2 linked regions of the Homo sapiens genome follow. The protein of the gene in region 2 purifies or fractionates together with the protein of the main gene of each other region. This does not show direct contact. Each region holds a gene or a part of one and is shown on either strand. Other genes may lie near its edges.

Region 1 (4,252 bases), on a different chromosome or scaffold from region 2:
AGGCTGGAGTGCAGTGGCGCGATCTCGGCTCACTGCAAGTTCCGCTTCCCGGGTTCACGCCATTCTCCTGCCTCAGCCTCCCGAGTAGCTGGGACTACAGGTGCCCGCCACCATGCCCGGCTTTTTGTATTTTTAGTAGAGATGGGGTTTCACCGTGTTAGCCAGGATGGTCTCAATCTCCTGACCTTGTGATCCGCCCACCTTGGCCTCCCAAAGTGCTGGGATTACAGGCCTGAGCCACCTCGCCTGGCCTCAAACTGATTTTACGTGGTACAGTTGCTACCTTCTGCAGAAAGCCTTTCCTGACCTTCCTTACTTCCCCTACTCCAAATCTGGATAACTCTTGTTCCCACAGTAATCTGTGTAGTCATAAGACATAGCCCTGGTTTTTCCATGTTGTACAGTATGTATCTCTTTACTTCCCTAGTATATTGTGCACTTCCTGAGGGTGTTTCCTTAGCAAATTCCATCTTAAATAGATGAGGCAGAGCCATCCACAGCTTCACCTTTATCTGAAGTGGTAAAGTCCAAACTATATTTTCAATGTAAAATGTTCATTTAAGCCAGTCAAATCATTTTACTTTATATTAATATTTTCCATCTTGTTATACTAAAACAAAAACCCCAAACACAAAGGGAGCTCCTGAAATCTGCCTAGAGGAATTTTATTCTAATTAAACACACACACATACGTTTTTCTAAGTTCATTATAAAAGCAATGCTTTTGAACTTCCTAATAATGACTTTATTCACTATTTTACATTTGGCTCACTGCTAGAAGACAGTTACAAGCATAGAAAATGGACCCAAGGACAAACATTTACTTGGGAGGGAAATAACACAAAGAAGCATATCAATCGATGTCTTTGTCAGTCATTCTGTGACCAACCAGGAGCGGGGATGGCTTTGCTCTAGATTCTGGCAGCCAGTAGAAACCATCTCTAGAAACCATCTCATCTTTATCCATAATGGTAATAGAGCACAGTGTTCTCTAGACATGTAGATCTGCCACATGGCAAAGCTATATCATGATTTCTTCTTGCAGAGTGGGCAGTTTCAGCAGGACCTGTAAGTTTGCTTAGGTTTTCTGAAGATATCGGCATTAAAGACTTACACATTCCTTTTGTCCTCCTAACGTATTTCGTAACCACACTCTCAACATTCCAATAAGTTTTGAACTTGGAGGCACTTAGAACATAATTACATTTCTAATTTTGTTTCAGTTTGATATGTGTCCCTTCCTTCCTTTTTTTGGTAGAGACAGTGTCTCACTATGTTGACCAGGCTGGTCTTGAACACACCAGGCCTAAAGTGATCCTCCTGCCTCAGCCTTCCAAAATGCAAGGATTACAGGTGTGAGCCACTGTGCCTGGCCTATACTTCCTTTCTTAATCAACTTTGTTTTTATTTATTTATTTATTTATTTATTTATTTATTTATTTATTTATTGAGACAGGGTCTCGCTCTCTTGCCCTGGCTGGAGTACAGTAGTGCACTCTTGGCTCACTGTAGCCTCGACCTCCGGGGCTCAAGTGATCCTCCTGCCTTAGCCCCACAAGTAGTGGGACTATAGGCACACACCACCATGCCCATCTAAGTTTTTGTATTTTATGTAGAGACCAGGTTTCACCATGTTGCCCAGGCTGATCTTGACCTCCTGAGCTCAAGTGATCTGCCCACCTCGGACTCCCAAAATGCTGGGATTATAGGCGTAAACCACCATGCCTGGCCTTAAATCAACTTTAGAGTCAACATCTCTTATCACTGGAGCTTCTAGAGAAACTCCATCACGTGGTGCTCTCTTTCCTGATGTGTTGTGCCCAAATAGCTTGTTCTCATCAGATGACTTATTTGCTATGATATATATACTTCAAGAGCTGCTATATGTATTACATACATCAAATCTTTCTGTAAAGTTTGATTTTTGTTTCTTTAAAAGGAACATAAATGTTCCAGGACCAAGGGACACAAAGAGGTTTTAATTTTTAGTTCTGTAGCCTCATATATTTTAACAGAAATATAAAAACAGATAGTAGCAGTTTTCCAGTGGAGAAAACTTTCCAGATGTCTCCACTGTATCTCCTTTCTTTGCCTCTCCTTGAGAGAAGGCTGGAACTGATGGGTAAATTGGTTTTTTGCCCATCAGCCTATTCACATCTTTCCTTCCTTGTTCCCATCCTAGATTGTGGGGTTTTTTTTTGAAATCTGTTCCATTTCAGACATTTAAAGAACAGCCTTATCTAATCCTGCTCAAGCAAAATCTCAGAATCCTTAAATACAAAAGATCCTGTGTGGCCAGTCATATAGTTCATGGGAACTCTATGAACTTTGACCTAAGCTTTATCTCTGATTATATTTTGGCACTGCTGCCCCTTTACATTAACGCTGAAAAACAAAACAAAACTTAGCTAAGTTTTATGGCAAGTGGGGGCAGGGTCAGGTGAAGAGGTAGGAATTGCCTGAGGTTGGGGGTCCCTAAAACATAAAATAATCATCCAAAGCCCATTTTCCTCAAAGCTGGGGGTAATGGCCAAAGTATGTTCTCAAAGCATCATCTGCCCTGAGAAAGGGCAGCTACTCCTTCTACAGAGATCTCTGTGCACACTAATCTGTACTGTCTTCAGTACCTTGATGGCTGTTTGTGGTCATACACTCCGTGGACCAGTCTTGAGGGATCACAGGGCCAACCAGCTCAGCAAACCTCTCCAGAGGACAGCTGGGGCTGCAGCCAGGTAGCATGAGGGGATACGGCTCGTGCTGCGTCTCATTCCGATAGTACATCTCCACAAAGTACTCCCTGGCAGACAAAGGCAGAGGAGAGAGCTCTGTTAGTTCTGTGTTGTTGAACTGCCACTGAATTTCTTTCCACTTGGACTATTACATGCCAGTTGAGGGACTAATGGAAAAACTTATGGGGAGATTTTAGCCAATTTAGGTGTGTAAATGGGGAGACTGGGGCAGGCGGGAGAGATTTGCAGGGTGGAAATGGGAGGGCTGGTTTGTTAGATGAACAGGGACATAGGAGGTAGGCACCAGGATGCTAAATCAGAGGAGGTGGTGAGAAGTGATGGTTGCAGGGAGCTGGGTGGGACTTTGAGCCTTTGGATAAGAAGTGGGAGGCAGGTGGGGGTGTTGGGTTTTCCTTCTCCTCCTCCCTTCTTTTTAGGCTTCTCATTTGCTCCTTTTTTTCTTTTTCTGTTTTCCTACTTGAGTATTTCTTTCAGTCCTCTTTCTGAATGTATCTCCCCTCTCCTTAACTAGGCTATAAACATGGAACTGAATAATATATAACATATGTGCTTGAATATACAGCAAGACTTTATCAGAAAATTATCCCTCAGAACAAAGATGTGGGTATGTGTTCCAGTCCTTCCATTGTGTCACGTTAAGGAGAGCTCTCTCAATGCTTTATCTCAAAAAAACAATGTACTATTTGGGAAGGTCCAATGGTGTAAACTAACCTGAGTTAAACCAGCGTGAGTTGCTTATGGAAGCCATTTGCTAATCAAGGAGTCAGGAGGGGAACTCAAGAAGGATTTAGAGATCCTTCTTTTGGTGTAACCTTACAATGGCTACTTTTGGTTGTCATTATAAACAAGCCTTTTAAAACATCACTTTAAAAAGCCATATAAACATAGTAACAGCAAATATTCACTTATGTCTATAAGGCTGGGCGCAGTGGCTCACGCCTGTAATCCCAGCACTTTGGGAGGTCGAGGCGGGTGGATCACGAGGTCAGGAGATCGAGACCATCCTGGCTAACACGGTGAAACCCCGTCTCTACTAAAAATACAAAAATTAGCTGGGTGTGGTGGCACATGCCTATAGTCCCAGCTATTTGGGAGGCTGGGGCGGGAGAATCACTTGAACCTGGGAGGTGGAGGTTGCAGTTAGCCGAGATCACGCCACTACACTCTAGCCTGGGCAACAGAGCGAGACTCCATCTCAAAAATAAAATAAAATAAAATAAAAATAAAATAAAATAAAATAAAATAAGATAAAATAAAATAAGATGTCTATAAAACTTACAAAAACCTCCCTAATATGTATTATGAATGGGTACTTATATCTTGGAATAACTTTTTCAGTAACAGCATCTTCTGTCTTAAGATGATATGGCCTAGATGACCAATACTCCATCAAACTCTGTTATTCTCTTTCCATAGAATTGAATTATGGCTCAGAAGTGACCACATTGCCAAGACTACGTTGTACCTAGGTAGGACCAAGTCACTAATTTAGCCAGTAGAAA
Region 2 (3,817 bases):
AGCTCTGAGGGCATTAAGCCAAGCAAGTAGAGGTGAAGCTATCTCCTGGCCTGCCCCCAGCCCACCATTGCCCGTGCCTTTCTTACCTACTGCCCATCAACTCTAAAAAAGGCTTGAGCAAGAAGGACATGCTGGGTTAACTATGATCCAGCGACTTGTCTTTGTGTCTTACATGTCTTTGCCTTTGGTTTATTGATTAATGTCTGATATTAACAGAACAGGAGATACCTCTGTGCTCCTGGAAATTGAGTCTGTGTCTACTGAGAATAATATAGTGAATGAAAATCAGTCATCTGGGGAGCCACAGGACAAGTGGAAAGCACAAGAAAAGCACTTGGCTTCTCAGAAATTGGGAACCAGGGGATAGAAAGCCACTGCACCATCAGGCAGGGGTATAAGGGCACCTAGACTGCAATGCAACGAGACTCAAGAGGCAGACAGCTGGTTCAGTGAGCCGGAGAGTGGAGGAGGACATTAGGTTTTCCCAAGAAAGAAACTGAGGATACTGGAAGGTATATGCTGACTTCCGAAGGGCAGGGTGAGGCAGGACTCTTGGCCAGGGGTGGGTGATTGGCAGGAATGCAGGGCTTACCAGTGACTGAGAGGCTCACAGCCTTACTGGGCTTGGCGCCAAGGCCATTGTCAGCTGTGCAGTAGTAGTTCCCTGAATTCTCTGTAGTCAGTGAGAAGCTGATGGATGCTCCCCTTTCACAGCGGACTGACTTGTGCCTCAGGGGGACACCCTCATGATAAAACCTGTACAAAGTGCGCAGAGAATCTTCCTGGGTTTCACAGTGAAGTGTCACCTTGGTTCCCTCAAAATTCAGAGCCTTTTCAGGGCTGAGAGTGAGGACAGGATGAGATGCAGGGACTGAGCAAGAGAAAAAATTAGTCAAGAATTGCTTTTGCCTCTTACTGTAGATTACAAGGCATGGCCAGTGCAAATGCCCAGTCTCCAGTCTCCACCCTTAACTTGCTGCCATCAGAACCACACACCCTTACCTGCACCTGCTTCTTGCTCCTTCCTTCTGCCCTATGACTATGGAATGTTGCACCTGAAGTGCCCAATTATTCTGAGTCTTCTTTCCTATCCCTGTTTATTTCTCCTTCACTTGCATTGGCCTCAGGGATTTATTTGCCATTGCTAGTTTTTCCTTAAAGATTAGCATAGTCTTCTAGAGCTTTTTCTTCTGCTCCTACTCTCTCCCTTGGCCCAGACTGACCTTCTTTATTTACAGGTGAGAAAACTGAGTCAAGGAGAGACTAGGAGACCTGCCTGTGTAGGCTGTTTTCAGGGCCAGCCAGGGCCAGAGTTGGTGTCCTGACTCCTAGTCTGGTGATGATCACATTGCCTCCTTATAAGTGAGCCCGGAGTTTGCCATGAGTGGAGGGATGACACAGGGCTCTACAGAAGCTGTTTTTCCCTCATCACTGTAACTACCATAATAGCTTTGAAGGAAGGATGGTGCTGTATACTAGTAAGGGAGGTGATGTAATCTGGGGTGCATATTTGTACTCATAACTAGGGAATGGTAAACCTCCAGAGTCACATATTTGGAGTAACTATAATGTTGCAACCTGTCTTTGTATCCTACAGAAATTTTCACTTTGGTTATTGTCAATAAGTAATGTTAATTGGGACAACAGATACCTCTGTACACCAGAGTCAGAGAGCTATGCCACAGCCCATGGCTTATCCCTATGGGCCTAGAAGAAAAAAAAATGATGTCAGGGAAGAGAACCCTGCGAGAGAAAAGAAAGAATTGTATTTAATGGCATTGAAAGAAAAAAAATTAGACCTTTCTTTTCTTGGATTTTCCTGGGTCTAAGCTCTTCTAAGATGTTCACAAGAGTAGAGGTCTCTTTGCTTGCACAACTCCCATTCTCACAGGTACGAGTTTTTTCTACAGAGACTGGTGACCCACGCTGATATGCAGCCCTGTCCCACTTTTCCAGCCCTCTCTGCAGCAAATCTCAGGTTCCACCAACACTTACTCTGCACCTGTATCCAGGATCTCGGGCTGTCAGATATGACGCTGTAAGGCATTGTTGCTGCCTTACACCAGTAGAACCCTGAATCTTTACTCCACATGGCAGTAATCTGGAAATTCGGGGAGAGACTCCAGCCTAATCCCAGGGTCTGGTCATCTCTGAAGAAGCGGAACCGGAGCGGGACATCTGACCTCTCTAGAGAGAGCTGGGTCTCACAGGTCAGGGTCACTGGGTTCCCGCTGATGGGCTGGAAGGAGCTGGCTCTCAGCACTGGACGTGTAAATGGCTCTAGAGAGAAGAATCACAACAGTCCCAGAGCAATGAGGCTGGAACTGCTTTGGAGAAAAGCACACTTCAAGCAGCAGCACATCCAAAAGCAGGCAAAGAAAGGAATGCCATTGATCCCTAGCTTCCTTCAGCCCAAAACACTACTATACTTCCTCTGCTCCTTGCAGGAATGTGTCCTGTGGTTTAGTGGTATTCCAGTCCACCCTTTTCCTCCTGTTCTATCTCTATGACCCCAAGGAATCTCCTTTTGACCAACTCACTTCACAAAATAATGAAGGCTTTACCTTGGACTTGGATTTTGACTGTATTGGAAGAAACAGGGCAACAACTTTCCTTATATCCAGTACAGCGATATGCACCATTGTCCTTGAGACATGCATGAGGAATATGGAAGTCAGTTCTTTTATTAAGGAATGCCAGGACATTATCATTCTTGTAAATAGTATTATTCAGTGTTACTTCCGCCTTTGCCCGGCACCTCAGAACCACAGAGTCTCCTTCAAACACAGAAAGTGGAGCTTGCAGGATCAGCGAAGCTATGAGAAACACAATAGAGTTATTTGGTTCATCCTACTGTTTCCCCTTTCTTTTCATTGTTTTTCCAAGTAGATTTTATTTTAAAAAAATGGGTTGGGAAAAAGAACTCTTAAAATAATTATCATTTCTTTTTTTCTGATTTAAAAATGAACACATACACCTTAAGAAAAGTTGAAAAGCAGAAATGTAGGTAAAATCACCTACCATCTCACCACCCATGTTTTGGCATATGTTTTTCCAGTTTTCTCTTCCACTTTCAAGTACTTGGAGCTCATGCGTATTTCTTTTATGGAATAATATTAATATTTGTAGATTTGATAACTTTCCTTTCACTTACTATGCTATGAACACTTTCCTACATCATTAGTATCATTATTGAACCTGATTTTTAATGTTTGCGGTTTTCCTTCACTGGCAGTAATGTAATTTCTTTAATGAGTTTTTTTTTTTTTTTTTTTTTTTTGAGACGGAGTCTCACTCTTTCACCCAGGCAGGACTGCAGTGGTGCTATCTCGGCTCACTGCAAGCTCCATCTCCCGGGTTCATGCCATTCTCCTGCCTCAGCCTCCCGAGTAGCTGGGACTACAGGCACCCGCCACCAAGCCCGGCTAATTTTTTGTATTTTTAGTAGAGACGGGGTTTCATAGTGTTAGCCAGGATGGTCTCAATCTCCTGACCTCGTGATCCACCCGCCTTGGCCTTCCAAAGTGCTGGGATTACAGGCGTAAGCCACCGCGCCTGGCCAGGTATTCTTTTTCTAAACCATGTTAAGGTCTGCCATTTTCAGGGATGGACATCTGTGATTGTTTCAGTAGGCAAATTCTTAAGAGACGGATTGTTAAGTCAAAGAGTATAAACATTTTTGTTTATTCCTTGCTAGTACACTGCTTCCACTACATTAAAAAATGATGTAACTTCAACTTCAAAACAGGTGGCTTTAGGACAAGGAAGGAAATGTCTCTTCCTTTATCTTTCTTTCTCTGTATATTTATCTACCTAT

The links.
Region 1: the proteins of FCRL5 (region 2) and ACP3 purify together in Homo sapiens (affinity purification with mass spectrometry; one large-scale study listed by BioGRID and IntAct). This does not show direct contact.

What each region holds. Positions count from the first base shown.
Region 1 is NC_000003.12:132,355,231-132,359,482, reverse strand, and holds the end of ACP3 (prostatic acid phosphatase isoform PAP precursor), read right to left. Parts: intron 2,798-4,252; coding exon 2,605-2,797; 3' UTR 642-2,604; downstream 1-641. UniProt on the Homo sapiens protein: A non-specific tyrosine phosphatase that dephosphorylates a diverse number of substrates under acidic conditions (pH 4-6) including alkyl, aryl, and acyl orthophosphate monoesters and phosphorylated proteins.
Region 2 is NC_000001.11:157,542,267-157,546,083, forward strand, and holds part of FCRL5 (Fc receptor-like protein 5 isoform 1 precursor), read right to left. Parts: intron 2,817-3,817; coding exon 2,565-2,816; intron 2,281-2,564; coding exon 1,996-2,280; intron 872-1,995; coding exon 593-871; intron 1-592. UniProt on the Homo sapiens protein: Plays an important role in B-cell response to antigen that acts both as a negative or positive coreceptor.